6 linked regions of the Homo sapiens genome follow. The protein of the gene in region 1 purifies or fractionates together with the protein of each later gene. This does not show direct contact. Each region holds a gene or a part of one and is shown in the gene's direction. Other genes may lie near its edges.

Region 1 (4,225 bases):
GATCTGATGTAATGCAAGCCAAAAGCCTGTGTAGCCTTATCATGGGTAAATGTATGATTTCCCTTAGGTGTTTTTTGAATTATCAAAAATGGAGGGGCCCCATTCCCTTCACAGACCCATGGGGGCCTGAGGAGCCGTAGTTGGAAACTTCAGATTATGTAGTTGGACCCACTTGTTTTATAATTGTAGGATACTGTATGAAGCCCAGAGGGGCCTCATGACATGTCCAAGGTCACATAGCCCTTTAGTAGAGGAGCTGGACGAGAATCCAGTTCTCCTGACTGTCCCTGCCTGTCAGCCATGCTTAGAGGAAGAAGAGTCTGTCTGGGGAGTAGGTACTGGGTGGTACAGAAAATTGTGAGAGAAGGGCTTGGGATAAGGCCAGCATCAACCCGTGGTGGGCGTGGGCCCCAGAAGAGTGCCTCAGGCCTGAGGGAATGCCAAGGGCTGTGGGTTGTGGGGGGAAGGGGAGTTGGCAGCAGACCTCAGTGCCCTCTTCCCCCAGCACCGCTTTGTGCTCCGGGAGCGGCCACCCACAGTCATCATGGACCTGATCCAGAGGACCAAGGATGCCGTGCGGGAGCTGGACAACCTGCAGTACCGCAAGATGAAGAAGATCCTGTTCCAAGAGGCACCCAACGGCCCTGGTGCCGAGGCCCCAGAGGAGGAAGAGGTGACCCAGCTTGCCCTAACACCCCTCTTTATACCCCATGTGTGCCTGCCCCCTGCAGTTGCTTGGCCCCTTCCCCAGCCCTACTCACACCACCATCTTCCCATGCTACCTCCATGCATATGCCCCAGGGCTTCCCCTTCCCTGTCCAGCAGCCTACGCCCTGTTCGCAGGAGGCCGAGCCCTACATGCACCGGGCCGGGACTCTGACCAGCCTCGAGAGTAGCCACTCAGTGCCCAGCATGTCCATCAGCGCCTCCAGCCAGAGCAGCTCCGTCAACAGCCTAGCAGATGCCTCAGACAACGAGGAAGAGGAGGAGGAGGAGGAGGAAGAGGAGGAGGAGGAAGAAGGCCCTGAAGCCCGGGAGATGGCCATGATGCAGGAGGGGGAGCACACAGTCACCTCTCACAGCTCCATTATCCACCGGCTGCCGGTACACAGCTCACCCTTGGGGGACCCGAGCCACCTGCTCTAGAACTGCCTGGGTCTTCGCCCTCCTTCCCTAAGTGCAGCACTCCTCTGAGTCTGATTGGCTGTCCTCAGGTAGCTCTCTTTGGACCCAGTGGCCTCTGAGCCTTGGGTGTTCCTTCTATCTCCCTCTAGGGCTCTGACAACCTATATGATGACCCCTACCAGCCAGAGATAACCCCCAGCCCTCTCCAGCCGCCTGCAGCCCCAGCTCCCACTTCCACCACCTCTTCCGCCCGCCGCCGGGCCTACTGCCGTAACCGAGACCACTTTGCCACCATCCGAACCGCCTCCCTGGTGAGTGTAGCCATCCTCACTCAGCCTGCTCGCTGTCTGTTTTTTAAGTCTTTTTAAGTCTAGAAATGATTTCCTCCCTGTGGCATGGGATTGAGTCTGGATTCTACCCTCATTTTCTGTTGCTGGCTCCTGCCTGCTCCCCTTAACCCTCCTGCTTCCCTCCTCTTCCCAGTGGACTGTTTTGGTCATATGGCCCAATCTGGGTGTTTCTAGCTTGGCAAACTCTTACTCCGTTTTTGTGGCCTGACTTAACTGACATCTCCTGGGTTGCCTTCCCAGGCTCCTCTGGTGAGTCAGATGCTTCACAGTTGTGTGCTGGGGAAGCCCAGTGCTGGGGGAGCCCTGTGCCTGTGGAGCCCTGTGCTGGGGGTGTCCAGTGCTGGGGAGCCCTGTGCCGGGGGTGCCCTGTGCTTGGGTGGTCCTGAACAGCATCATGATAGGTTTGCCAGATTCTGTGCCCCAGAGGGCAGGGATGGTGTTCAGATATCTGTCTCATGCCAGCAGTTAGCTCTCAGGCTTACACACAGGCCTGTGTTAACCCTCCCAGCCCCCCTGGGAGGGGAAGGGTAAGATCCCATTGGAGAAATGAGGCACCTGTGGCTCAGAGGGGCCACTTGCCCCAGTGCCTTTGGTGGCTCTCTGCTCCTGTAAGCAGGCCCTTAGTCCTCTCCTAAAATCAACTCATGGCAGTCTTTCTCAGTTCACAGGAAAAAGTGTTTAGGCTTTTCATAAAACATAGTTTTTCATCTATGTTTTTAGATCACGTTCCTGCTGAGCTGCATTTGAGCGTCAACAATCCCCTTAGAGGCCACTGATTAAGTCTAGTATGTTCTTATGGCCTCTGCTTGGTGCTGGTTGTGTTCCAACAATTCTTCAGATCCCATGGTGTTGTGCGGTACTGTGCTGAGAGGTCTTGACTGCCAGGGGCTTGGCTGCCGGGACTAGTTTGAGAGCCACTCATAGAGTCAATTGAGAATGAGACCTGAGATCAGACTTTGGATGAAGGTGTCCAAGCCCAGTGTTCTTGTTATTCCAGCATCTTGTGGCCCCGATCCCACCTCAATACCTGGGGAGTGATAGGCCGACCATGTTTGCTGAAGGGGAAGGAAGCCAACACTTATTAGATAGAGTCCGAACTTACCCCACAGCCCCTATGAGGAGGTATTATTTCCCCATTTAACAGATGAGGGAACTGGTGCTTTGAGAAGTTAACTTACTTGAGATCACATGCTTGGTAAGTGGCAAAGCTGGGATTTGATCCCAGGTATGTCTGACTCACTGTTTCAAATTAGTATGGATTGTTCCTACTTTTGTGCCAGGCCCTGTGCTCGCCACCTTTTATCATTCGGCCACACCAACTTGTGATGTAGATAATATCACCATTATCCAGTTGAGGAAACAGGCTAGAGTGGCCGTGTGTGAGGAAGGTGTTAAATGAGAATGAAACCCATGAGTTGAAAACCCATGCTCTTCCCCACGGAAGACCCCTTGTGTTAATTAACTAGGGGCCAGGCTGAGCCCCAGCTCTCACCCTCTCTCCTTCCCCAGGTCAGCCGTCAGATCCAGGAGCATGAGCAGGACTCTGCGCTGCGGGAGCAGCTGAGCGGCTATAAGCGGATGCGACGACAGCACCAGAAGCAGCTGCTGGCCCTGGAGTCACGGCTGAGGGGTGAACGGGAGGAGCACAGTGCACGGCTGCAGCGGGAGCTTGAGGCGCAGCGGGCTGGCTTTGGGGCAGAGGCAGAAAAGCTGGCCCGGCGGCACCAGGCCATAGGTGAGAAGGAGGCACGAGCTGCCCAGGCCGAGGAGCGGAAGTTCCAGCAGCACATCCTTGGGCAGCAGAAGAAGGAGCTGGCTGCCCTGCTGGAGGCACAGAAGCGGACCTACAAACTTCGCAAGGAACAGCTGAAGGAGGTGAGCTAGGGCTGCTTGGGGGCGGAGCCGATGGCGAGCCAGGTGGGTCCTGACCCTGCTTCCCTCTGCACTCGCCCAGGAGCTCCAGGAGAACCCCAGCACTCCCAAGCGGGAGAAGGCCGAGTGGCTGCTGCGGCAGAAGGAGCAGCTCCAGCAGTGCCAGGCGGAGGAGGAAGCAGGGCTGCTGCGGCGGCAGCGCCAGTACTTTGAGCTGCAGTGTCGCCAGTACAAGCGCAAGATGTTGCTGGCTCGGCACAGCCTGGACCAGGACCTGCTGCGGGAGGTAGGCATCCCAATCTCTGTTCCCCTCCCGCTCACTCGTGGATCCCAGGGACCCACCCTTTTCCATTTTCCTCATTCTTGTCTTCTTTCTCCTTGGCCCTCGAGTGTTACAGTTCAGCTTTGCTTCAGTGCCCCTTTTACTTCTCATCCCCAACAGACCCTGCCAGAATTTCCTTAGGCCTCTTTTCCCAGGCCAGGGAGGAGCTTGCCTCCCCTACACCCTCATCTCCTGCCATCCCCAGCTCCCTCTGCCAAGGAGCCCTGGCCCCTCACTTCCTTGATACTGACCAGGCCCTGGGCCCTGTGTTTCTTCCGCCATCCCCAGCTCCCTCTGCCAAGGAGCCCTGGCCTCTCACTTCCTTGATACTGACCAGGCCCCGGGCCCTGCATTTCTTCTGCCTCAGGACCTGAACAAGAAGCAGACCCAGAAGGACTTGGAGTGTGCACTGCTGCTTCGGCAGCACGAGGCCACGCGGGAGCTGGAGCTGCGGCAGCTCCAGGCCGTGCAGCGCACGCGGGCTGAGCTCACCCGCCTGCAGCACCAGACGGAGCTGGGCAACCAGCTGGAGTACAACAAGCGGCGTGAGCAAGAG
Region 2 (5,212 bases), on another chromosome or scaffold:
CTGGGCAACAAGAACAAAACTCTGTCTCAAAAAAAGAAAATAGACATTGGAGTGGATGTATGCCTTTATCCAGTTCTGATACTGTATCCAGTGAGAATTATGAACAGTTCTACCATTTGATGTAAAGGATTAGTGTACATAATTAGTTCTGTTTTATAGGGTATTTTTAAATAGCATATTTCTTCACACCAAAGCAATACACAATTATTAAAGAAAATGCAAATTAAAAAAAAAAAAAGACTCCGTTCCACCGTTGGATCTCCACTGTTGATACCCTGGTGTGATGATGTTTTTAGTTGTTAGGGTTGTTTCTTTTTAAATTGCAGGGGGACTGGGTCAGAGAGGCAAGCTGTGTGTTTAGTCAGGATCCGCAGGGGTGGTGTAGAGTTTGTCTCTGGACTCCTTCCATCCGCGTTCCATTGAATCCCCTCCCTCCAGGCTCACTTCTCCCTCCCTCCCTCCCTCAGCAGCAATGCTGGCACTGGTGTTGTCACATGTCCCACAGTCATTGCTCTCCTGTCTCTGCAGACTCGCCTAGGAAGGAGGTGTACTTCATGGCAATTATTGACATCCTTACTCATTATGATGCAAAAAAGAAAGCTGCCCATGCTGCAAAAACTGTTAAACATGGCGTGAGTATCTCCATTTTGTTTCCTTCTCTCTTTCTCTCCCTCTCTCTCTCTCTCTCTCCCTCTCTCTCTCTCTCTCTCTCTCTCCTGGCTCCTCTGTGTGACCTGTAACTCAGGGATCACTCCTTTCTGCCACTGAGCTGCTTTCTACTGAGCCATTCAAAGCCCTTTAGTGACGCTTGTTCCCTGGGGGCAAGTCATGTTCTGAGCGTAAGATACAGAACCCACAAACGCTTACTGCTCACTGCTGCTCTTACCACAGCTCCCTGTGGCTTCCAGCGAAGTCACTTAAACATGAACATCTCTTCTTTTTACACATGGCGGACACTAACAGGCATGCGCATCACTAGGATGTTACACAAATTCTTTTTTGTTTGAAAAATGTTCCAGAGATAAAAGTGCAAAAGAAGATAATGAAGTGTTCTAATATGAAATATTCAAAACTGAAGCATGATTGTCTGCTTAAGACACTTCCCAAGTATACAGGATTAATATTTCTTTTCTCACAGTGAGTTGTATTTTTTCTACTACAGAAATCTCTTGAGTGCAAAATCAAAGTTGCATAATATTACTCACCGTTAATGTTGCTTGATGGGAGTTTTCACTGCTCTAGCCATATGTTAAGCTATTTTATCCCCCATGAGAAGCCTATGAAAGAGATAGTAGTGTACCTGCTTTTGTCAGTTGGAGAAACTGAGGAAAATAGCTTCAGGAGTAACTTGCCAGGGCCTCATAGTAGCAAGTGGCAGAGATGAGATTCCTCCCCCGGACCCAGCCCCCTCCTGGCTCTGTGTTCATGCTCATCCCCTTGCCCTGCCTGCAAACACCTCCTGCCTGGCTGAACTTTACAGCTCGCCAAGTTTCAGGCTTGTATTGCAGGGTGCCATCTTTGTTTTGCAGAGGTCCTGAAAGCCATAGAGCCCACCCCACACAGATGAATGTATTCCCTGGTTTGTTGGCCCTGGAAGAAGAGGTGCTTCCCACAGACTGTGTAGAACTAATGAAGATTCACCAGAACCAAAAACTCACTTGAAACCTCTTCTTTTCTATTTTAAAATAGAAATCAGCCTAACAAACACAGTATTCTATTTGCCAAAGAAATATTTCAGTCACATTGTCGATAGCTATGGTATTCCTGCTGTGTGCAGAGCACAGACTGGGACCTCACCGCCCCCGAGCACGTCAGTAAGCAAGTGTGCCTGGTGGCTTCCCCCCAACAGAAATTTTTGAGTACTCTTTTTAAACAAACATCCGCACCAGGTGCACCACCCCCATTCCGTCATTTCTGAGGCCAGTTCAGGAGGGTGAGGGAGGGGTCTTCAGAAGACTCCATGGTCATTCTGATGCTCACCTCTGGTTGAAAACCATGGAGTGTGGCAAAGAGAGAACTGGCGAGGAATCCTCGTTTGACCCTTCCCACTTGTATGACCTCAAGGGGACACTTTTGGAGCTCCTGTTTTTTCACCTCATACAGAAATCCTACTGCCTTGCTGATGGGGTTTTGCCAGAGATACAAGAGTTGTCTGGACAAATGCTTTGTAAATGTCTGTTCCCATATTATACATCCTGTGAAATTGGAGTGTATCCTAGCCAATATGGCTCCATGTTCATCTCTCCTATCCTAGCCAATATGGCTCCATGTTCATCTCCCCATAAGCCACAAGTTCGCCTCCATAGTGTGCCACACGGCATAAAATCACAGGTAGTTTGCAAGAAGAAAACATTACTGTCAGCAAAGGAACGCTGTGTTAAGCTGCTGTGGGGGACCATTCTCTCTGCATTCAAGCCTGGGCTCCTCCATGCAGCCGAGGCCTGGAAATATTACAAGTTCCCCGGTGAACATGGGTGTCTAAAAACAGCACATGCTCACTTAGCAAAACTCCGTGCTTGCCCTTTGCAGCTCAGGAAACTGGCCAGTGAGTGACTCCCTTGAGTGTGCTGGCCTGCACCCTGCATCTCATCATGGAAAAATCCCTCACCGTGCTTCTGCAGGGGGCCAGGCTTGCTTGCTCTCTGCAGGGCTCAGAAAGGGGAACAGTGGCACCCCTGTGTGCTGCTGCAGAGGGAAGTCAGCTCCTTCCCCCGTGGGCAAGATGGAGCCAGCAGTGTTGTGCCTCACCTGGTTACGGTGCAGGGAATGGGCTGGGGGCAGCTGTCCCAGAACCTGTGGCTGCTGCTGTTGCCCCTCATGTTTGAGCACTGAGCTGGGGGCCTCTGTCCAGAAACGAAGGGGTCCTGAAGAAATCATGCGGTTTTAAGTCATCGTCATTAAGGTTTCCCTTTCGCCAAATGTTGATGTCATTCTCAAGGTGGCTCCAGTCTGCCTTCTTGAAAAGTATAACATAAGTATTGTTTCCGTGACTTCTGAACAATTCCACTCTTTGATAGTAACATCCCAAACGTGGCCTGTTTGATTTTTTTGTGAGTTGCAACAGCCCCGGTGTGTGTGGTAGCATCTGGTGCTCCTGTCGCCCTTTGTCTCATTTGCAGACACAGATTTGTAAGAACCTTGCTTATTCAACCATGAGCGCCAAGATATTTTGAGTGATGTTTTTCAGAGCAGAGACTGCATGGATTTGAAAATTGCTTGCTGTATATTCAGTTGCCATTGGAAATAGCTGTAGATATTGAGTAATAATTTGGGGAAATCATAAACACTATGTCAATATTTCCTTTTTTAAAAACTGCCCAGGCTGGCGCGGAGATCTCCACCGTGAACCCAGAACAGTATTCAAAGCGCTTTTTGGACTTTATTGGCCACATCTTGACGTAACCTCCTGCGCAGCCTCGGACAGACATGAACATTGGATGGACAGAGGTGGCTTCGGTGTAGGAAAAATGAAAACCAAACTCAGTGAAGTACTCATCTTGCAGGAAGCAAACCTCCTTGTTTACATCTTCAGGCCAAGATGACTGATTTGGGGGCTACTCGCTTTACAGCTACCTGATTTTCCCAGCATCGTTCTAGCTATTTCTGACTTTGTGTATATGTGTGTGTGTGTGTGTTGGGGGGGGGTGAGTGTGTGCGCGCGTGTGCATTTTAAAAGTCATAAATTAATTAAAACAGATCCACTTCGGTCAGTATGTGTCCCAACAAAGACCCTTTGATTCCAGCTATGGCCGAATGAATGAGTGAGTGAGTGAGTGAGTGAATGAACACACGTGTGGGGGAGGGGAGAAGGAAGTGCATGATGTCAGGCACCGTGTTGGCATCACACAACAAACTGTGGATCAGTTTTTTTTTTTTTTTTTTTTTTTTGGAGTTGAAAGATGTGAGACAGTATTCAGAATAATGAAGATAATAATGATGATTATTATAATAATGATGATGATTCCAAGGAAAAAACCTACAGCGAATGTTCCATTTCTACCCCGCACGCAGACACTCTCCCTAACACTGATAACCTGAGCCCCCAGCACTGGACGGAAGAATGCTGGCGTCTCCGTGTGTACTGGTTCAGGGTTCTGGCCCCAGCCTTGTCAGGACCCCCTGGTGTCCAGAGCCCCCACCCCTCCCGCAACAAGCAGCTGATGCCCCAGTGATTCTCTATACATTTTTCACCTCGGCCAATATGTCCAGGAAAACTGCTTACTTCTCTTTTCTTGCCTGGAGCCTTCATTGTTCACCCTTACGTTGCAATATAGGAATTAATGCTACAAAATAAAAGTAAAGCTTACCTGAAAAGTGCATAGTTTGGGGCAATGGTATCTACATCTCCCACTGTGGGAAAACCAGCAAAGCATCAAAACTCTCAATTCTCCTGTTACCAAATGCAGATCTGAATTATAAGATGTTTATGTTTGACCATTGTTTCAACAATGGGATTTTGTTACGAATTATCCCTTTAACTGAAACCCTCAGTTTTACTGTTTACATTATTAGGAAAACAGGGATATCTTTTGAATCTAAAAATTTGATGTACAGCATGTGATTTTTGAAGTTTACATGTAAAGTCACAGTATAGGTGAAATAACGTTTGTCATATTTTGAGACGTATCCTGCAGCCATGTTTTTACGTGAGTGTTTTAGTCAAAGTACATGGTAGACAGTCTTTCACAATAAAAGGAAAAGGATTTTTTTTTCCTCCAAATGTACATTTATCAACCTAATGATTGATTTTTTTAAAAAGAGATTTCGCCCCAGTCTGGTTTATGAAAGTTCATTGCCCTAAACTGTGCTGATTGTTTTTAATCAAGTTATAAATTTCCAACCTAGATCATGTATCTACCAACTCTCCTGCATTTTCCAAAAGGCATTGAGCTTAAATATTAGTCTTGCTTAGAGTAGGTTATCCACTTACATGCTGCGCTAAAGCCATGCCTTTGAAACTCCTTGTTTAAAACATGATATGATTTTTGTGGGCAGTTTCAGAAAAGAAAACAAACAAACAAAAATCGACCCTTTAATTATTACTTGCAACTCAACAGATCTCCCTGCCGTACTGCCTTTTCCAGGAACTTTACTTCAGGGCTGTCCAGATTGCAGCTGTGCCCCGTGTATGTGGATCTAGTTCACAGAGTCTTTGGAAGCCAGCAGTCGTGCCCTCCGTATACTGTCCACTCATTTTATGTAGATTTGGTAT
Region 3 (5,212 bases), on another chromosome or scaffold:
AAACGTTTTTCAGTGGGAAAGTAATACCTTCAAATATGGTGAATTAAATATACTTTGAGGATATACAGTTAAGTTACTCAAAATAAATGTTTTCCTTGTCTTTAGACTTGAGCTGTTCAGTGGGTTATCACTAGCCACATGTTGCTTTTGAGCATTTAAAAATAAGACTAGGTCAGATCAAGATATGTTCCAAGTTAAAATACACACAGATTTTGAAGACTTCATATAAGAAAAAGAAAGTAAACTAGCTTAGTAATAAATATTTTATAATGATTACATGTTGAAATAATATTTTGGATGTACTATTAAAATAATTTTACCTGTGTCTTTTTACTTTTTTTTAAATGTGGCCGCTTAATATTACATAGGTAGCTCATAGTTGTTGCTGATATTACATTTCTGTTGTACAGCCCTACTCTAGAGACTTACTGTACATGTTGAATGCATTCTTTAATATAAAACTTTTATCTGGTCCTCCATCCCAAATATATATTATGGTGCCCAAAACTTTAATTTTTATTTTTGCATTCCTTCCCATCAGTAGCTCAAATAACCTGTGTTTTAGGTAAAGTATTTTAATGTTTAAATGTGGAATACATTTATATTTTAATTGGAGTTGAAACTATAAGCCCATTCTGCTTGATTTCTTCCATGTCACACAAGTTTATTGATAACACTCTTTTCTGGTAGCACAAGTCATGTCACTAGGTATCTCATATTACTTTAATAATCTACATTACGTATGTTAGAATAGAGCTTTTTTGATTTAATATTCTGTGATTCAAGGTGAGTACATATATATTTAGTAGCTTCATTAAATTGCATCCTGCCAAATCATTGGGTTAATGAAGCAACACCATAATCATTTTCTTTTTTTTTATTGTTGTTTTCTTCTTTGAGTGTCAGTTTGGCTTTGGAATGGCATATTTGGTCATTAGGGAGACATGATGCTATCTTAAGCATCTTTGTGGCCAAAAGAAGAAGGAAAAGTAATCTGTACAGTAGTATTGCTAAGAGAAAAGTCAATATTTCAGCTTTTCTAATGCCAGGAACAGAGAGAAGAAGACCCTGTCCGAAGGAGTAGATAGTATCTTCAATGACATTCATAAAATAAAATAATAAATTTCCTGAGGGTTTTTCTTGTAACATCCTAACATATAAGCTAATTATCTAACACTTAAGTACAATTATGTGACCGTGATAGATGTGGTTTGATCCATGGATAAAGTTTGTTGTCTATGGCATAGATTACTTATTTTGGAAGAAAACAAAGTAACTAATTTTACACTGATGTATTTTTAATTATCACATTTAGTTTGTTACATTTCAAGTGAAATTGAAGGAGGACATGTTAAAAATGTAAAGATGCTTGTATTTTTTAAATTACAACTTTTGAAAAAGATGAAAGAAACCTCACCAGTCATAAAATCTTTTATATTCATAATTCCAATTATTGGTCCGCAACGACAATAATTTTCATCATGGTTTTTGTTATTTGGAGGGAAAAGAGGATTAAAATAGTTTTTCCCAAGATAATACCATTGAATATTTTAATGTATATACAGTTAACCTTTGAACAGTGTGGAGGTTAGAGGTGCTGACCCCCTGCAGAGTTGAAGATTTGAGTATAAGTTTTGACTTCCACAAATCTTAACTACTAAAAGCCTACTGTTGACCAGAACATCTTACTGGTAGCAAAAACAGTTGATTAACATATGTTTTGTGTATCCTATATATTACATACTGTATTCTTAAAGTCACAGAAAAGAAAGTGTTATTAAGAAAATCATAAGAGAAAATATATTTATTATTCATTAAGTTGAAGTGGATCATCATAAGGTCTGCATCCTTGTCGTTTTCACATTGAATACGCTGAGGAGGAGGAAGAAGAGAAGGGGTTGGTCTTGCTAGCTCAGGGATGTCAGAAGTAGAGAAGGTGAATGGGGAGGCAAGAGAGGCAGGCACACTTAGTGTAACTTTACAGAAATATGTTTAATTTCTGACTTATTTGCTTTGTCATTTCTCTAAAAATGTTTCTGTACAGTACCAATCTTCCAACATTTGCTTTAGTTTCAGTGCTTGTATCAGAGAAGGGTCCATGTCATAAAGCAGCCTTGAATAAAGAGAACTCTTCTGCTGGGTTGTCTAATGTCCATTTGTTTTCTGGCACTCCTTTGTCTTCTTCCTCATTGTCCATTAGCTCTTAAATTTCTCTGATATCCATATCTTGAAACCTTTCATCCTCTACGTTTTTTTTAACCATATCTACAATCTCTTTCATGATTTCCGTGGCTCTGTTGTAAATCCTGTGGAGTCATGCACAACATGTGGACACAGTTTTCTCCAGCAGAAATTTATTGTTTTAGGCTCGATGGGTTTTTCTATAACAACAGTAGCATCAGTGGTGTAATTCTTCCAGACTTTCATGGTATTCTTTCTACCAAGGATTGTTGACAGCCATTTCCATAGAGGCCTTATGGTTCCATGTATAATGAGCTTTAAAGGTTCTTGATCCCCTGATGTAGAGGCTGATTTAGAGGTGTGGTGTTTTGGGACAAGTAGGCCACTTTGATGCCTTTCAGTGTTGAACTCATGGGGTTCTGGGAAGCAAGGGACATTATCCAGTATCAGAAGAATTTTTTTGAACAACAATAATAATAAAGGCTAGGTGCGGAGGCCCATGCCTTGTAATCCTAGCACTTTGGGAGGCTGAAGTGTGAGGCCAGAGGCCAGAAGTTCAAGACCAGCCTAGGCAACATAGGAAGACCTTGTCTCTAATTAAATATACAATACATATATATGTGTGTGTATGTATATGTAGATATCTCTGATATCTATATATATATCTGATATCTCAATATATATCTGATATCTGTAGATCTAGCTATATAGAGATATATAGGTATCTCTATAGATATATATAGACAATCAGAAGAACTTCAGAAGACCATCCCTTCCTGCCAAGATGCTTTCTAACCGCAGAAACAACGCATTGATGGTACCAGGCTAGAACAAGGGTTCTCTTTGTCTAGGTCTTCTTGTACAACCACAAGACTGGAAGCTGGTGTTTTTCTTCTCCCTTCAAGGCTTGAGGGTTTAGCAGCATTATAAATAAGGACAGTCCTGATCATAAACCAGACTTCATTTGCACAGAACAGTAGAGTTGTCCTATCTCTTCCTGCCTTAAATTCTGGTGCTCACTTCTCTGCTTTACTAATAAATATTCTTTGTGGCTATTTTTTCCTTCAGAATAGGGCACTTTGATCTGTATTAAAAACCTTTTCAGGCAGATATTTTTTTCCTCAAAGATTTTCTTAATGGTGTGTGGGGACTTATTTGCTGCCTCTTGGTCATCAGAATCTGGGTCTCCTGTTATCTTGACATTTTTTAAGCAAAACCTCTTTCTAAAATTATCAAACTATCCTTGGCTGGCATTAAATTCTTCAGCTTTAGACTTTCCTTTTGCTTTAAGTTGTCATAGAATGACTTTGCTTTTTCTTGAATCATATTAGGGTCTATAGGTATGCCTTTCTTATAGATATCCTGCACCAACATAAAAGCTGCATTTTCAACAGGAGACAAAAAGGTATTTCACAAAACATGCAAGGTTTTTGTACCTGCTGATGTAGCTGCAGCAATGGCTTTGTTTCATGAATTTCCTTTTTTTTTTTTCTTACAGTGAGTCTTAGACTGTATTCAAGCAATTCAGTATCATGCAATACACCTTCTTGTAATGTCATGACTTTGCTTCTTGAGCACACTTCCAACATCACTAGTGGCACTTTGTCGGGTCCCATGGTATTATCCCATGTTTAAAGTATTGCACTAAACACGATGAGAAAAATATGTGAGGGCTGGGAGGTATTACTTTGTACTGGGATGTGCAGTTTGCTGGAGAGATGAACTGTTCACATGGAGTTGATTAGAGTCACATGGCGTTTTAATCATATACTTACTAATACTTGAACTGACTGCAATAGCAACAGGAGGTGGCTTCAAACTTATTACATATACACGTGTACTACAGTTAATTTTGTGCAGTTATGATTTAATATTGCATCTGTATATTTGTTTATATTTCTTTTAACTGCAAATAACACCATGTACAGTCTGTTTGCGTGTGAGTTTTGATAAATTTTAACTTTTTAATAATTTGTATCTATTTTATAGTAAATACTAAAATAGACTAGTGGATAACTATATTTTATGCATTCATAACATGTGTTTTTATTATTTTTTTCACTACTTATAGGCTACTCAGTTTGTCTATAAGTTTTTTCAAATTGTTGCTGATCTCCAAAAATTTTTCCTATATATTTATTGAAAAGTATCTGCATGTAAATGGACCTGAGCAGTTAAAACCAGTTCTTCAAGGGTCAGCTATATTCTACTTGATTCCCTCTCCCCCTTATCCTCTATGAGAGGTTCCGATAGGTTGTCCGTCTTCCAGACTGAGAATCACTGATCCACAAGAGTGTATGTTGCTGCCCTTCGGTTTATTTTTTTCTTACAGCTGGATTCTTTACAAAGATTAGACACCCTACAGGGTTCATGTTGTATTCTGAGGGAAAACCTAAGAGTTGTAGATTGTCTCCCTGATTTAAGACCATATTTATTCATTTTGTCAGTCAGAGCCATTTGGTAAATTCAAGCTTTTGAAATAAGAATTAGCTTAACCAGGTTTTTAGCCAGGAGGTACTGAGACTACTCCTTCCAAACTATGTACTGAGGTACCTGGTGGCCCATAGCAAATTCAGAGGGGTGCCACGAAGTATTTTAAAATTGTGAAGGTGTACAGTGATACTCAACATCTGTTTGACACTGCATGGACTCCTAGCTTGAGATGGATTGCAATTTAGCATATTGGATTGTCCTTCACTGCTTTCATTGGTGTTAGATCATTGAGAAGCTGGACTTTTTGGCCAGTGCTATGATCTAACAGAAGTACCAGAAAAAAATATATCTGCAAGAGGAAATGAGAGGGGCAAGGTCCAATCTAAGACCAATGTTTGAGAAATTATGAAGTGCCCAGTAGGCACACACATCCCAGTAATAAGTGACAATAGTTATTTAAGAACAGAGTAAAAATTGTTTTTTTCAATTTATGTGTATTATTTTTTTAAAGGCTAGGTAGTTAGGACACTATACTTATTAAGTTGTTTAGACCTAAGTATTTAATAAACAGCACTGTGAGGTGTATCTTTTGGCACTA
Region 4 (5,212 bases), on another chromosome or scaffold:
ATGTTGCCCAGGCTGGTCTTGAACTCCGGAGCTCAAGTGATCCTCCTGCCTCAGGCTCCCAAATTGCTGGGATTACAGGCATGACCCACCACGGTGGGCTCCACCCCTCTTCTTGGTGACCCTTAGCTGTGCCTCTTGCTTGCTGTGAGGCCTCATGCATGTGCCATTTGCTGAAATCCACCCTACCCACCATCTTAACCCAGAGGGCTGTGCTTGATGCGCCACCCTCTCAGAAGCCTTCGGGGTCTCCCCAGCCAAGGCCGCCCTTCTGTGACTGATGTTGCCTGTGCTTTCTTTGCTCCTTAAGGGTGGGGTCCATTTCCAATTCAATTTTGTACCTGCCACTGTACAAAGTTTGTTGAACTTCGTGCCTTTATCCTACATGAGAAATTATATTCTGAAGGACTGCTCGTGACAACTATTACTGAAATGCACAAAGAACCGTGTTTCATAACAAAAGCAGATGCATTTCAGGACTTCCAGTCCTCTCACCGAAATGGTCACAGGAAGGAACACAGGAAAAGATTTTCTTCACCAAGAAAATTTGTTCAGAAGATTTTAAAATATTTCCCATTCTCTTGTAATCAACAGCTTTCATTTCAGTGGGAGCAGATTACTAAGACATTCTGCTCTATTGATGGTGACTGTTTCTTCGCTTCTAACTTGGGTGTTGTCTTAGTGAATTATGATCATTGTAAGGTCAATTTTTAAAGTCTAACCTTTTAAAAAGTTAGGAATATGTTGTTGATAAAATACCTGTTGTTTTTCCTCATTCTGTTGTATGATTTTCGTGGTTAATGCATCATGTCAAGTATTTTGAGGTGAGAATACTCCACCTAACTTCTCTGATTTTATCTCTTTTGTCTGATTTTGTCTTATCTCTCCATGTTGTTCAGAAGCAATTTTTTGTGAGTGACTTTTGTGCTGTCAGAACACGAAGCAGCTACTCTAGTAAGAATCCTCCCCTGGAATTTTCCACTAAAAGTAGTTGGCAGTAAAACATTCCAGGGCAAAGGAAACCAGCTTAGACCGTTCCATGCTCTGAGCTGTGTCTGGCAGTTTTCCTGTTTAGGAAGCAGTGATTGGGGGATCTTTCCGACCTGGCCGGTAACTTGGGCTAAGATGCTATCAAAGCATTTCTTTCCAAGTCTGGTGACACTTCAAGGCAAGAAAATGAGTGCTAAATTAACTGAGCATGCTGCCTCTCCTTGCTGACCTTCTTACCCTCAATTCAATTGTCATTTGGTCTTGAACCCCACAGATCCCCCAGGGAGTCCTTGAGCGAAACAATGTGATCACTCTGAACATAACAGGGAAAGCTGGAGCCACTCTGGACCTTCTGGTAGAGAACATGGGACGTGTGAACTATGGTGCATATATCAACGATTTTAAGGTAGGACAAACCACACTGTCAAGACTAAGGTTTAAGGGGTGACAACTTAGAAGTTGAAGCCCAGTACAGTGGCTCACACCTGTAATCTCAGCACTTTGGGAAGCCAAGGCAGGAGGATCACTTGAGGCCAGGAGTTCAAGACCAGCCTGGGTAAAATAGTGAGACCTCTACAAAGAATTAAAAACTTAGCCAGGTGTGGTGACATGCACCTGTGGTCTCAGCTACTCAGGAGGCTGAGGCAGGAGAATTGCTTGAGTCCAGAAGTTGGAGATTAAAATGACCTATGATCATGCCACTGCACTCTAGTCTGGGTGACAAAGTGAGACCTTGTCTCAAAAAAAAGAAGTAGTTGAGCTATTTTGAAGAGCTGTTTTCCTCTGTAGGTGATGAGAAAGTTGAGCTTTGCAAACAGAACCTTTCCCCTGTGTTTGAGTTTGGTCATCCTATAGAAAGAAACAGAAGGAGGAAGCCCCTCCACCATGCTTTTCCTCTGCTTTAAAAGACCACCAAGCTCACTGAAGGCACTCCTTTGCCAGTAAAGCCAGCTGAGCCTCTGTTCTGCCCTGTTTTATGGGTTTGGATGGTTAGCCTGTGGCAAACTCTTCACTTGTAGGAAGCCTCTTCCCTTGGGGCACTGGCTCTCACCTCTGTTGATTACTCCTGTGTCCAGATGTGTAGCCCAAATAAGTTTTTCTAACACATATTTTTAGAGCATTATTCAGCAAGCATTTGTTAAGCTCCCACTCCGCGAGATGCCCCACCAGGTGCTTTGGGGAATGCAAAGGTGTCAAGAGACAGGCTTCTCTCAGGGAGCTCAACCTCCGCGAGAGGAGAGAATGCCTTATCAAGGGAACAATGGCACCACCCAGGCTAGGGCAGGACAGGTGTCTGGGGCTATTTCCTGACCCTCTTGAGATCAGGCAATTACATCTTAGGGAACTTAGGGAATAGCTGTGTGCAGGCCACCTTTGCCTCCAGTATAAATGTCTCTCTCATAGTTCTTGTGCTCAGGGTGGACTTCATGGCCTCCTGCCTGGCTCTCACAGGCCACATTGACCCATGGGAGTGACTCGACTCTGTTGTGTAGTCTCTGGGTCTCCAGTACCTGTCAAAGAGCCTGACATACAGCCACCTGGTTAATATTTATCAAATTATTAAATGGGCAATCGAGACTTGGTATCTGGGATTCCACTGGGAATGGGGAAGTTCCCTACATACAAGCCAGGGAAGGGGAAGTTAGCTGAGCCTTGACAGCCCAGCCCTGGCCTGTGTGGAACAAATAGAGCAGCTTCTGAATTCAGGTCTGAGGTTTGCCATCGTCATCATTACCTTCCTATCCTCTTAAGGTATCACAGTATTCTCATGTATGTTATCTCACTTGGCCCTCATAACAGGTGAGTGACTCGGGTGTGGTCCTCCCTGTGATGATGGCTGAGGTGCTCAAGGCCAATATTTGCTCCTGGCTGCATCCGTCGTACCTGCTCCATCCGCAGTGGGATGACTATTCCTTTGTATCCCACACTCACTCATTCCTTCTGTCCCCAGATTCCATCTTGAGACAGGATCTTGCTGTCACCCAGCCTGGAGCGCAGTGGCACAATCTCGGCTTACTGCAACCTCTGTCTCCTGGGCTCAAGCAATCCTCCCTTCTCAGCCTCCCAAGTAGTTGGGACTATACGTGCATGCCCCCACACTAGGCCAATTTCTGTATGTTTTGTAGAGACTGGATCCCTTTTTGTTTTGAGATGGAGTGTCGCTCTGACACCCAGGCTGGAGTACAGTGGCGCGATCTCAGCTCACTGCAACCTCCACCTGTCAGGTTCAAGCGATTCTCATGCCTCAGCCTCCTGAGTATCTGGGATTACAGGCACCTGCCACCACACCCAGCTAACTTTTGTATTTTTAGTAAAGATGGGGTTTCATCATGTTGGCCAGGTTGGTCTTGAACTCCTAACCTCAAGTGATCTGTCTGCCTTGGCCTCTCAAAGTGCTGGGATTACAGGCATGAGCCACTGCGCCTGGCCCATCTTTCTTGGTGCCCATCTTTCTCTATTCTAGCAGTGGCTCTCAGCCAAACTCTGAAAATTTGGGAATTTGGGATCAATCACTCTAGCAACTCAATGCCCTTTCTGTAGAAGCAGAAACTCTGGGCCTTTTATAGAGACATCATGACCTGCAAAGGAGAAAGCTATAGTTTGGGGAATATATCTCTTCCCAAGGATTTGTAATTCAACCTCCAGTTAGATCTGTGTTACTTCGATGTACACATATTTCGAGGTTCATTTCCTGTTGGTGTTTTGTATCCCGGTTTGCTTTTCCCATTTCCCTGGAATGCAGAGACATGTGAAGCCTTTTTCCTTCCCTCCCCAGCTCACTGTGCTCTGTTTCTGCTTTGCAGGGTTTGGTTTCTAACCTGACTCTCAGTTCCAATATCCTCACGGACTGGACGATCTTTCCACTGGACACTGAGGATGCAGTGTGCAGCCACCTGGGGGGCTGGGGACACCGTGACAGTGGCCACCATGATGAAGCCTGGGCCCACAACTCATCCAACTACACGCTCCCGGCCTTTTATATGGGGAACTTCTCCATTCCCAGTGGGATCCCAGACTTGCCCCAGGACACCTTTATCCAGTTTCCTGGATGGACCAAGGTACGTGTCTTCATGGGAAGGGTTTGAATTCAGGCCTAAACTTTTGGTTGTTAGTGTCTGAGAAAGAATCACAAAGAGCTGTTAGTGAGATATCGTGTGATGGTTTTGAGTGTGGCGTTTCGGACATTCTTCAGGAGGCGGATTGTGGCAGATCTTCAGGGATTCAGTGGCCAGCTCGGAGGTGCTGCCATCTGCCCCCTTGTCATTGGCTTCCTGTAGTGAATGACACCATCCTGCCTCCTCCAAGAAGAATCATGACCCCTTTTGATGCTGATTATAGGGGTGCTTTCTCTTTATCTTGAGGACAATCCAGTCAAGACAAAGAGGTGGATCCCTCTGGGAGAGTCTGTCTGGTTTTCATTTATGCCAAGCCCAGTGCTCCCAGAATATCCCCACCTGCATCCAGCCCCACACCCCTGGGGCTTCTATCATAAGCTGTCTGCTTCTCCACTCTTCCTCATCCATTTTCACTTCCCAGTCACTCCGCCTTGTCGTTTGAAGACATTGGCATATCTTCCTTCACCGCCTTCTCCTCTCCCTCATGTCCTGTTTTCATCCTAGATCACCTTACCATCACTCATTCAACACACTTCTCATTCTGTGGCCACTATGTGCCCAAGGTGTGTGCCAGGCACTAAGGATACAATCATGAATAAAACCAAACATGGTCCTTTCCCTCATGGAACTTTCAGTCTAGTGAGGGAGGCAGACTCATATTAAAAAGTAAAACCATAGCTGTGATGGATGCTAAGAAGGGCTATGGGGTTGATAATAATTGGTGCATTTTGCCTTGTCAGGGAGGTCAGGGAAGCCTTCCCTAAGATAGTGATGCTTGTCAGAGATATGAAGGATGAGTAAGAATTAGCATGGCAAGAAGGGAAGAAAGCATGTTCCTGGGAGAGGTAACAGCTTGTGCAAAGGCCATGGGGTTGGAGGGGAAAATGTCAAGTGTGGAAAGTAGGTAGAGACTAGATTGGGACGGGCCTTATAGGCCACGTTAAAGTTTTGTCTTTGTGTTGAGAGCCATTGAAGCAGGAGAGTGACATGATAAGACTGTGATCTGACAAGCTCCTCTGACCCCATTGTGCAGAATGGTTTGGGTAAGGACACTTATGGATTCGAGGAAACCATCTAGGAGGCTGGACCATAGTCTCATTGAGAAACTG
Region 5 (4,959 bases), about 55 Mb from region 1:
AAGCCCGGTGTAGGCCAGCCTGGCTCTCTTTGTGGGTAACCAGGATAAATAGAGATCTCCACGTGTGTGACCTGTGAACTGAAAAGCCAGCCTGGAATGGAAGAGCGGGAGAGCCCGTCCTCTGAACTCAGAAGGAAATGCCAAGTCGGATCTGTCTGGCATCCTCCACAGGCTGTGAGAATGTGGCCTGCTCCTGTAGCATGGACAGAGAAGTTGCTGTTGGAATTGACTGGATGTGGAAATACCACAGGGAAATAAAGTGTCTCAATGACAAACGCATGTATGGCAACAAAAAGAAGATTTGAAAGGGAAGAAAAAAATAAAACCCACTGCTGTAGGACACATGTTAAGAAGCAACTTTTAAGAATTCAGAGCCTGGGCAGTTTAGGGAGACGTTGTCCCTGCAAATTATAAAAATCAGACAGGCGTGGTAGCGTGTGCCTGTAGTCCCAGTTACTCAGGAGGCTAAGGCGGAAGAATCACTTGAGCCCAGGAGGTCAAGGGCGACATAGTGAGACCTCGTCTCTACAAAAAAATTTTAAAATTAGCCAGGCATGGTGGCACACACCCGTAGTCCCAGCTACTCAGGAGGCTGAGGTGGGAGAATCACTTGAGCCCAGGAGGTCAAGGGTGCAGTGAGCCGAGATTGTGCCACTGCACTCCAGCCTGGGCAACAGAGTGAGACCCTGTCTCAAAAAAAAAAAAAAAAAAGTCGAACCACATAGCTGCTAATACCTAATAGCCCTCGGTCAGTTTTCTTCCTCCAACCACATTTCCCCTCTTCAGGCTAGTGCCCAGCCAGTTCTTCACCTCAGTCACCCTGGAATAGACCAGCTATCTATGTGATAGTTTTCAGTTACCTGTTTCTCCCTATGTTGAATTCATTTATTTATTTATTTAGAGACAGGGTTTCTTTTTGTCGTCCAGGCTGGAGTGCAGTGGCACAATCATGGCTCACTGCAGCCTCAAGCTCCTGGGCTTGAGCGATCCTCCTGCCTCAGCCTCCTGAGCAGCTGGGACTACAGGCGAATGCCACCACGCCCACCTAATTTTTAAATATTTTGTTAAGACAGGAATCTCGCTATGTTGCCCAGGTTGGTCTCGAACTTCCTGGCCTCAAGTGATTCTCCCGTCTCAGTCTCACAAAGCATTGAGATTACAGGCATGAGCCACCATGCCTGGCTTGAATTGTTGTGTTGTTTGGTTTTGGGTTTTTTTGGTTTGTTTTTTGTTTTTTCTTGTTTGTTTTGTTTTGTTTGTTTGTTTTTTGTTTTTTGAGACGGAGTTCTTGCTCTGTCTCCCAGGCTGGAGTGTAGTGGTGTGCTCTTGGCTCACTGCAACCTCCATCTCCTGGGTTCAAGCAATTCTCCTGCCTCAGCCTCCTGAGTAGCTAGGATTACAGGCACACGCCACCATGCCTGGCTAAATTTTGTATTTTTAGTAGAGACAGGGTTTCACCATGTTGGCCAGGCTGCTCTCAAACTCCAGTAGCCGGGCTGTCGTCCCAGCTACTCAGGAGGCTGAGGCAGGAGAATCACTTGAACCCGGGAGGCAGAGGTTGCAGTGAGCTGAGGTTGTGCCACTGCACTCCAGCCTGGGCGACAGAGCAAGGCTCTGTGTCAAAAAAAAAAAAAGAAAGAAAGAAAGAAAGAAGTTATATTAATAAGAGAAGGAAAAAAAAAACCACGATACACAGGCATACTCAGAAACACCTGTACTTCCTGCAGTGCCCTCTGATGCAGCATTTTATTTCCTGTTTTCTTCAGTTTCATTTTGTTGAAAATGCTGGTCAGGACCCACTGGGTTGGACCAGGGCCGAGCAGGCTGCTGCGCCGTTTCTAATGTGTCTTCTCTGTCCAGGTATACCGCTGGGCCGACCACTCAAGCACGGTGCTGCAGCGGCTGAACGAGCAGCGTCTCCGCGGGCTCTTCTGCGACGTCGTCCTGGTGGCCGATGAGCAGCGTGTGCCAGCCCATCGCAACCTGCTGGCCGTGTGCAGCGACTACTTCAACTCCATGTTCACCATCGGCATGCGGGAAGCTTTCCAGAAGGAGGTGGAGCTGATCGGCGCCTCCTACATTGGGCTCAAGGCCGTGGTGGACTTCCTGTACGGCGGGGAGCTGGTGCTGGATGGCGGCAACATTGACTACGTCCTGGAGACGGCTCACCTGCTGCAGATCTGGACGGTGGTAGACTTCTGCTGTGAGTACCTGGAGCAGGAGGTGAGCGAGGACAACTACCTGTACCTGCAGGAGCTGGCCTCCATCTACAGCCTCAAGCGGCTTGATGCCTTCATCGATGGCTTCATCCTGAACCACTTCGGCACGCTGTCCTTTACGCCCGACTTCCTGCAGAACGTCTCCATGCAGAAGCTGTGTGTCTACCTGAGCAGCAGCGAGGTGCAGCGGGAGTGTGAGCACGACCTCCTGCAGGCCGCCCTGCAGTGGCTGACGCAGCAGCCCGAGCGCGAGGCCCACGCCCGCCAGGTGCTGGAGAACATCCACTTCCCGCTCATCCCCAAGAACGACCTGCTGCACCGCGTCAAGCCGGCCGTGTGCTCGCTGCTGCCCAAGGAGGCCAACTGCGAGGGCTTCATCGAGGAGGCCGTGCGCTACCACAACAACCTGGCGGCCCAGCCCGTCATGCAGACCAAGCGCACGGCGCTGCGCACCAACCAGGAGCGCCTGCTGTTTGTGGGCGGCGAGGTCTCCGAGCGGTGTCTGGAGCTCAGTGACGACACCTGCTACCTGGACGCCAAGAGCGAGCAGTGGGTCAAAGAGACGCCGCTGCCCGCCCGGCGGAGCCACCACTGTGTCGCGGTGCTGGGGGGCTTCATCTTCATCGCCGGCGGCAGCTTCTCACGGGACAACGGAGGGGATGCGGCCTCCAATCTTCTTTATAGGTATGACCCCCGCTGTAAACAGTGGATCAAGGTGAGATTAAAGCCAGATTATTTCTTTTCTCTTGAGGACTCTCTCGGTTTCCTTAACCTAGCCTTGACTTTCCTTACCTCTCTGGGGCCTTGACAACTATCCTGCTTCTGAATGAGGTGTGATGATAAAGTGACGAGCAGAATACCCCGGGGCCTACATCCTGGACAGGGAGAGGGAGAGCCGACCCACCCCTTCGAGGGGTCCGTCATCGTTCAGAGCAGCACTGCCTGGCGGGGCTTTCTGTGCAGATGGAAGGGTCTGTCTGTACTTCCCGATACGGTAGCCACAGCCGCATGTGGCGACTGAGCACTTGAAATGTGGCCAGTGCGACTGAAGAAGTCAATTTTCAATTTTATTTCACTTTAACCGATTGACGTGTAAGTGTATGTGGCCGCACGAGGCGTGGCTACCCTATTGGACAGTAGCATGGGTCTAGATGTTTGATCCATGGTTCAACATCCCCAGGTCCTGGAGTCTCTGTGGGGCTCCTCTGGAAGCATTTTGGGAGATAGTTTAAGGAGACCACTAGTGCTCACGCCTGGCCCTTGGGCATGTATTGTGTCCTGATTCTGGGAAGAGCGTGGGCCTTGATGTCAGACCTGAGGTCTCATCCCAGCCTGGCTAAGTCATAGCTAGGAAATTTCAGATTCTTGTCCTCTCCACATTTTGGATTCCCCTTCTGGGAATACGTGGGGGACAGGGAGTGCAGTAGCTCATGTTGACTGGCAAGCCCCTGGCGTAGGGAAGGTGTCTCCTTTCTGCTGGGAGCGCTCTCCAGCCACTCGGTCCCCGGGACAGTCCATCTCAGCCTCTATACTCACACCTCAGCGTCGCGCCCAGCTCAGTGCTGTTCTCAGCTCAAAACCCAGTCAGAATGGACTCCAGCTGACCTTTTGATTTTACTCTCAGAAATCTGAGACTGCCCTCCAAGGTCGAAGTGTCACCACTGGAAAGGGTCCCTGGCTTTGGAGCCTCCTCCCGAAGCCTGGCAGCAGTGGCAGCAGTGTGTTTGCCTTGGATTCGTTTAAAAAAAGAAAAAAAAAAGTTGGCTCTTCTACTTTTTGTGTGTGTGTGTGTGAGACAGAGTTGTTCTGTCACCCAAGCTGGAGTGCAGTGGCACGATCTCGGCTAATTGCAACCTCTGCCTCCCAGGTTCAAACAATTCTGGCGCCTCAACCTACTGAGTAGCTGGAATTACAGGCGCCTGCCACCACGCCCGGCTAATTTTTGTATTTTCAGTAGAGACGGGGTTTCACCATGTTGGCCAGGCTGGTCTCGAACTCCGTGACCTCAGGTAATCCACCCACCTTGGCTTCCCAAAGTGCCAGGATTACAGGCGTGAGCCACCGCGCCCAGCCTCTTCTGTTTAATTTCCTGTCGAATGCCACGTCCTGCTCTGTTAACACGGAGTGGCAGAGCAGCACTAACTTTACAAATCTGATGTGGGGAGAGGAAAGATGAATTTTTATTTCATAAAGCCACTAGATCAGCAATTCTGACCCCTGTGACCACAGAGTTCCCATCCACGCGGCTAACGACATGACCAGAGAAGTTCGGGGGTTCAGAGCATCTCCATCCCCCTTTTGGGGACTCAGAGCGTCTCCATCCCACTTTTGGGGATTCAGAGCATCTTGGTGAAACCTCGGGGGCTCAGAGCTCCCACCTGAAGAAGCCCTCTTTATTCAGGTGCAGTTCCCTTTCCCAAACATTCTCCGGGGTTGTGCATTCCGCAGACACATTTGGGAACCGCAGCGCCAGATGTTGATGCTGTCCCGGGTTCGGGGAAGGGAAGGTACAGGTATCTCAACTCCACAGGTGGCCTCCATGAACCAGCGCCGTGTGGATTTCTACCTTGCCTCCATCGAAGACATGCTGGTGGCCATCGGCGGCCGGAATGAGAACGGAGCGCTCTCTTCAGTAGAGACGTACAGTCCCAAGACTGACTCCTGGTCCTATGTGGCCGGCTTGCCAAGGTGATCTGGGGCTTGGTGGAAGGTTCTCCAAATGGGATGTTTTTAAGGGACA
Region 6 (5,212 bases), on another chromosome or scaffold:
TTCCACTGGCCATAAATGGGATGATGTAAACATCAAGAAAGGGAATCACAGCTGGGCACAGTGGCTTACACCTGTAATCCCAACACCTTGGGAGGCCAAGGTGGGCAGATCACCTGAGGTCAGGAGTTCAAGACTAGCCTGGCCAACATGGTGAAACCTCATCTCTACTAAAGATACAAAAATTAGCCAGGAATGGTGGCACCTGCCTGTAATCCTAGCTACTTGGTAGGCTGAAGCAGTAGAATTGCTTGAACCTGGGAGGTGGAGGTTGCAGTGAGACAAGATCGCACCACTGCACTTCAGCCTGGGCGAGAGTGAGACTCAGTCTCAAAAAAAAAAAGAAAAAAGGGAATCACTGCACAATACAACAAAATATGTTTAAATCCATGAGTTCATAATTATACTTAAAAAAAAAACTTCATTGGCCATTTTTGGAGGCCACTAGAGAAGCTACTCATATTGAAAATGGATGAGTAAAGGGGAAGAGACACACATTTGTCCTGCTTTTCATAGACAAACTGTACCTCAGGGTAACCAAATAGTTGGTAAAGGAGAGTTTCCCTTTTGGAATTATTCCAGATTATAAATGACGAAGGAATCATTGAGTTAGAGTGTCAGCATTTTGCATCTCCTAATGGAATAATGGATCTTGGCAATGATCATCAACAGATGCTAACATCACAAAAAGAAAGATAACCAGGCATTATGTATCCCCTTGATGAACATGTACACCACAACTTATAAAGACTTGTTGGGGAAAAAAAAAAAAGCCTTCATACCAAACAGCAGTTTATAGGGTATACAAAGAGCAGTATTAATACCATAAGGACACAATTGGGAAAATGTAGGCTGGGAAATCCTAAAGAATAAACAACTCAGTTTAACAAAAAATTACAAGGGGGAAAACTGATGGAGAAGGGAACCCATGAATGAAAGAGACTTGAGAGACACTTCAATTAATTTGTAATGCAGGGTTTAATTTGCATCTCAATTTGAGCAAGGTAAAAAAAAATTGGAAAAATATGAACACTGGCTATTTGATATGAAGGAAATCATTGAAATATTCCAGATAATGGATTTGTGGAGAGAGAAAGACATATAATTATATATTATATATAATATATATGATTATCTTTTAGCAGTTATTACTGAGCTATTTACAGATGAAATAACATGTCTGTTGCCTGGAATTTGTATTAAAACAATGGTGAGGGTATAGAGGGGTTATTGGAGAGTGGGAAGTTGGCCATGAGAGATAGTTGGTGAAACTGGGTGGTATGTACATGGGGATTTATAATACTATTCTCAGCACTTTGGTTAAGTATTAAATTTTCTTTTTCTTTTTCTTTTTATTTATTTTAGAGAGAGGGTCTTGCTCTGTCACCTAGACTGGAATGCAGTGGTGTAATCATAGTTCACTGCAGCCCTGAACTCCAGGGCTCAGTTGGGATCCTTCTTCAGCCTCCTGAGTAGCTGGGACTACAGGCACATGCTACTTGGCTATTATTTTTTTTAATTTTTCATAGATATGGGGTCTTACTATTTTGCTCAGGCTGGTTTCGAATTCCTGGCCTCAAGCAGTCGTCCCACCTCAGCCAGCTGAAACTTTCTGTGATAAAATATTATTGTCGGGGCCAGGCACAGTGGCTCACACCTGTAATCCCAGCACTTTGGGAAGCCAAGGTGGCTACTCAAGGGGCTGAGGTCAGGGGGTTGCTTGAGTCCTGGAGGTCAGGGCTACAGTGAGCCATGATTGTGCCACTGTCCTCCAGCATGGGTGACAAAGCAAGACTGTGTTTCAAAAAAAAAAAAGTTATTATTGTTTTAAATCATGGTTTATCATAGCTGTTTGTTAAACAGCTGGACCAGTTAAAAGGTTTCAGACATCAGAAGGAAAGGACAGTTTAGGAATATTGACTTTATTACATCTTGAGTCTTTAATTTTTTCATGTAGGTCTGCTTAAGGTAGGAAACAAAGTGACCGCATTTGGTCTTGGGCAGACAGAGCAGAACAAGGTCAGCATGTGCCCCTGGTGTAGGCAGAGGCAACCCATAGGATTAGACATGCCACCAGAACAGCCTCCTTTACCCGGGTTAAGCCTTAGAACCTGAGAAGCCATCTACTGAGTCTGCGTTGCATTTCCTACCTGCGGACTTTTATTCTGGGCTTCATTTCTTGGAGGAACTAGGCCTTCTGCATTACACACTCCCTGCAAATATTAGGTTGGCACAAAAGTAATTGTGGTTTTTGCCATTACTGTCAATGGTAAAACTGCAATTACTTTTGCACCAACCTAATACAGTCAAGTCCTATAGATGTCAAACTTGGCTACACACCAGAATTTCCTCATTAAAAATGTCTTACTTAGGCCAGGCATGGTGGCTCATGTCTGTAATCCCAATGCTTTGGGAGGCCGTGGCAGGAGGATGGATTAAGACCAGAAGTTTGAGGCCAGCCTGGGCAACATAGTGAGACTCTGTTTCTACAAAAATGTGTTAAAAAAGAAAAATTAGCTGGGCATGGTGGCATGAGCCTGTAGTTCCAGCTACTTGTGAGGCTGAGGCAGGAGGATCACTTGAGCCTAGGCAGCCAAGGCTGCAGTGAGCCACATTCATGCCACGGCACTCCAGCCTGGGCGACAGAGCAAGACTCTGCCTTAAAAAAATTTTTTTCTTAGGGTGTTGTTGTTGTTGTTGTTGTTGTTGTTGTTGTTGTTGTTGTTTTTGAGACAGCATCTCTCTCATTCTATTGCCCAGGTTGGAGTGTGGTGGTGCGATCATGGGTTACTGCAGTCTTAACCTCCCTGAGCTCAGGTGATCCTCCTACCTCAGCCTCCCAAGTAGCTGGCATGCACTACCATGCCTGGCTAAATTTTGTACTTTTTGTAGAGATTGGGTCTTGCCATGTTGCCTGGGTGGTCTTGAACCTCCTGGGCTCAGGCATTGTGCCTGCCTTGGCCTCCCAAAGTGCTGGGATTACAGGCATGAGCCACCATGCCCAGCCAATTGTTTTAATTAAAAAATAAATTAAAATGTCTGATTTTTGTCTGCCACCTGCTAAATAGAAATTTGAGACAGGATGTAGGAATCTGTGTTTTTACCAATCTGGCTGATTCTTCCAGAGCCAGCCACATGCTGGTTCATAAACCAGCATTTGGGATCTACTCGATAGCCCACCCTACCTCCATCCCTTGTGAAGAGATGAAAGAGACAGTACGGTAACTTACAGTCCCCTTTCCTTTCTCAATGCCCAGGTATCAGTGCTGCAGAATCAGGGCAGAGAGATGATGCTGGTGACCAGTGGAGCCGTAGCCTTTGGCAAACAACGCTTGCGCCATGAGATCCTTCTGTCTCAGAGCGTGCGGCAGGCCCTCCACTCGGGGCAGAACCAGCTGAAAGAAATGGTGAGTGCTGCTTCCCCACACATTGAAATGGATCTTCAGGTCTTCTTCCCTCATTCCCTACCACACCTTGTCTCATTGGTATATTACAGGCAATTCCAGTCTTAGAGGCACGAGCCTGTGCAGCTGCCGGACAGAGTGGGCTGATGGCCTTGTATGAGGCTATGTTTACCCAGTACAGCATCTGTGCTGCCCAGGTGAGAGGCTGGGCTTTGAAATGGGTGTGGGACCTGTGAGGGTGGTTGTTGTGGAACAAAGGGGTCTGGAGCCAGACTATTGGAATATGGTGTCAGCTTCATCACTTGCTACTTGAGATCTGAAGAAAGTTTCTTTTCCTTTTTGTGCCTCAGTTTCCTCATCTGAAAATGGGGATAATATCAGTGCCTATTTCAGATAATTTTTGGAAGGGCTCAGTGAGAAAATATATGAAAAGCATTTAGTATAGTGTTTGGTACATAATACATTGTCAGTAAATATCAGTTCTTGTTACACTAATAACTTAGGATTCCAAGTGCTAACACTTCTGAAGACAGAGAAGTTAAATGTCTTTATTTCACTGGCTTCTTTGATTTCAGGTGGCTTGCTTCTCTTTGCACCTGGTTGGTTGCCTTTTATAGCAGATATTTATTAAGCTTTGAAGGGAAAGAGGAATGCTGGTGATTGGTTGGTTTTTCACTCATTCAGCAAATATTTATTGAGCACCTATGGTGTACCTAGCAGTCTTGGGCATTGGGGATACTGTGGTGAACAAATCAGACATGATTCCAGTCCTCATGGGACTTACGAATTTTTGGTGGCTACCCCTAAATGTTCTAGAACCTTCTTTCTACATTGTTTCATTTTTACCTAAATCTCCTGAATTTTTTTGAATTATATTCTTAATCAACTGTACAACTACACACTAGAGACATCTCAATAACAGTCACTTCAGGAAACAACTGAAAAAAAAATCTAACTCCCAAATTATTTTATTTTGAAATTCCTTTACCTGTAAAGATGTAAAATAGCTGTTATTTTATATTATGGATATTATTTTACATGTACACTACATGCACAGATGTTATTTTACACAGGTGATATTGTTATATATACATATATTGTTTCAGGTTTTGCTTCTTCATTTCCTGTTACTTTTTTTTGTTTCTCCATCATTTGCCTGTTTGTACCCACAGTGATGTTCTGGTATTACACCAGAGTGTCCTCAAGTCAGTGAGGTAAAACAGAAAGGCACGGACTTGTCCCATTGCCTATGGCTGGGGACCCCACTTTCTGTAGTCTTAGCTTTTTTTCTGTTAGTATAAATACAGTATAAATCTCTATTTATATCACTCTTCTTTATTATTTGGTTTCTCTTCACAGTCCAATGACAACTTTGGTCTTTAATTTTTTTAAAGTGCCTGGAGCCAGGTGAGGAAGCTCAAGTCAGGGAGCTATGGTTTTGCTTTGGTTTGGTTTTTCCCAGGGATGAAACCTTTTGAGAGTTTGTTTTTGTTTTATTTTGTTTTGAATGATGGTAGCATTAAGAGTCCATGCAGCATCAGCCATTGTTTCCATTTACATTGAGTGAAAGAAGAGCCCTGCCCCCTCCAGTTCCCAACAAGCTTCAACCCCTGGGCTCTTTCCTCTCACACCTGTGTCTTCCCCCAAGGCCATCATATCTACAGAAAATATTTGCCCTTTGTACCTTTTCCTGTGGTTCCTTATTTTCTTCAGTAATCCTATATAGAAGACCATTGTCAGTGGCTTTTGAAAATTTCCAGTAGGTGGTTTGCCAGGTTAAAGACTTAAACACTTAAAACAGCTTGTTTTTT

The links.
Region 2: the proteins of TAOK2 (region 1) and PIP4K2A purify together in Homo sapiens (affinity purification with mass spectrometry; one large-scale study listed by BioGRID and IntAct). This does not show direct contact.
Region 3: the proteins of TAOK2 (region 1) and PDCD10 purify together in Homo sapiens (affinity purification with mass spectrometry; one large-scale study listed by BioGRID and IntAct). This does not show direct contact.
Region 4: the proteins of TAOK2 (region 1) and GLB1 purify together in Homo sapiens (affinity purification with mass spectrometry; one large-scale study listed by BioGRID and IntAct). This does not show direct contact.
Region 5: the proteins of TAOK2 (region 1) and KLHL36 purify together in Homo sapiens (affinity purification with mass spectrometry; one large-scale study listed by BioGRID and IntAct). This does not show direct contact.
Region 6: the proteins of TAOK2 (region 1) and ALDH18A1 purify together in Homo sapiens (affinity purification with mass spectrometry; one large-scale study listed by BioGRID and IntAct). This does not show direct contact.

Annotation. Positions count from the first base shown.
Region 1 is NC_000016.10:29,982,229-29,986,453, forward strand, and holds part of TAOK2 (serine/threonine-protein kinase TAO2), read left to right. Parts: intron 1-505; coding exon 506-673; intron 674-822; coding exon of another isoform or gene 823-843; coding exon 844-1,104; intron 1,105-1,274; coding exon 1,275-1,436; intron 1,437-2,984; coding exon 2,985-3,350; intron 3,351-3,429; coding exon 3,430-3,633; intron 3,634-4,036; coding exon 4,037-4,225. UniProt on the Homo sapiens protein: Serine/threonine-protein kinase involved in different processes such as membrane blebbing and apoptotic bodies formation DNA damage response and MAPK14/p38 MAPK stress-activated MAPK cascade.
Region 2 is NC_000010.11:22,535,391-22,540,602, reverse strand, and holds part of PIP4K2A (phosphatidylinositol 5-phosphate 4-kinase type-2 alpha), read left to right. Parts: intron 1-528; coding exon 529-632; intron 633-3,321; coding exon 3,322-3,402; 3' UTR 3,403-5,212. UniProt on the Homo sapiens protein: Catalyzes the phosphorylation of phosphatidylinositol 5-phosphate (PtdIns5P) on the fourth hydroxyl of the myo-inositol ring, to form phosphatidylinositol 4,5-bisphosphate (PtdIns(4,5)P2). Has both ATP- and GTP-dependent kinase activities.
Region 3 is NC_000003.12:167,698,945-167,704,156, reverse strand, and holds part of PDCD10 (programmed cell death protein 10), read left to right. Parts: intron 1-5,212. UniProt on the Homo sapiens protein: Promotes cell proliferation. Modulates apoptotic pathways. Increases mitogen-activated protein kinase activity and STK26 activity. Important for cell migration, and for normal structure and assembly of the Golgi complex.
Region 4 is NC_000003.12:33,012,890-33,018,101, reverse strand, and holds part of GLB1 (beta-galactosidase isoform a preproprotein), read left to right. Parts: intron 1-1,261; coding exon 1,262-1,393; intron 1,394-3,791; coding exon 3,792-4,046; intron 4,047-5,212.
Region 5 is NC_000016.10:84,655,011-84,659,969, forward strand, and holds part of KLHL36 (kelch-like protein 36), read left to right. Parts: intron 1-1,860; coding exon 1,861-2,934; intron 2,935-4,749; coding exon 4,750-4,907; intron 4,908-4,959.
Region 6 is NC_000010.11:95,635,479-95,640,690, reverse strand, and holds part of ALDH18A1 (delta-1-pyrroline-5-carboxylate synthase), read left to right. Parts: intron 1-3,254; coding exon 3,255-3,404; intron 3,405-3,493; coding exon 3,494-3,598; intron 3,599-5,212. UniProt on the Homo sapiens protein: Bifunctional enzyme that converts glutamate to glutamate 5-semialdehyde, an intermediate in the biosynthesis of proline, ornithine and arginine.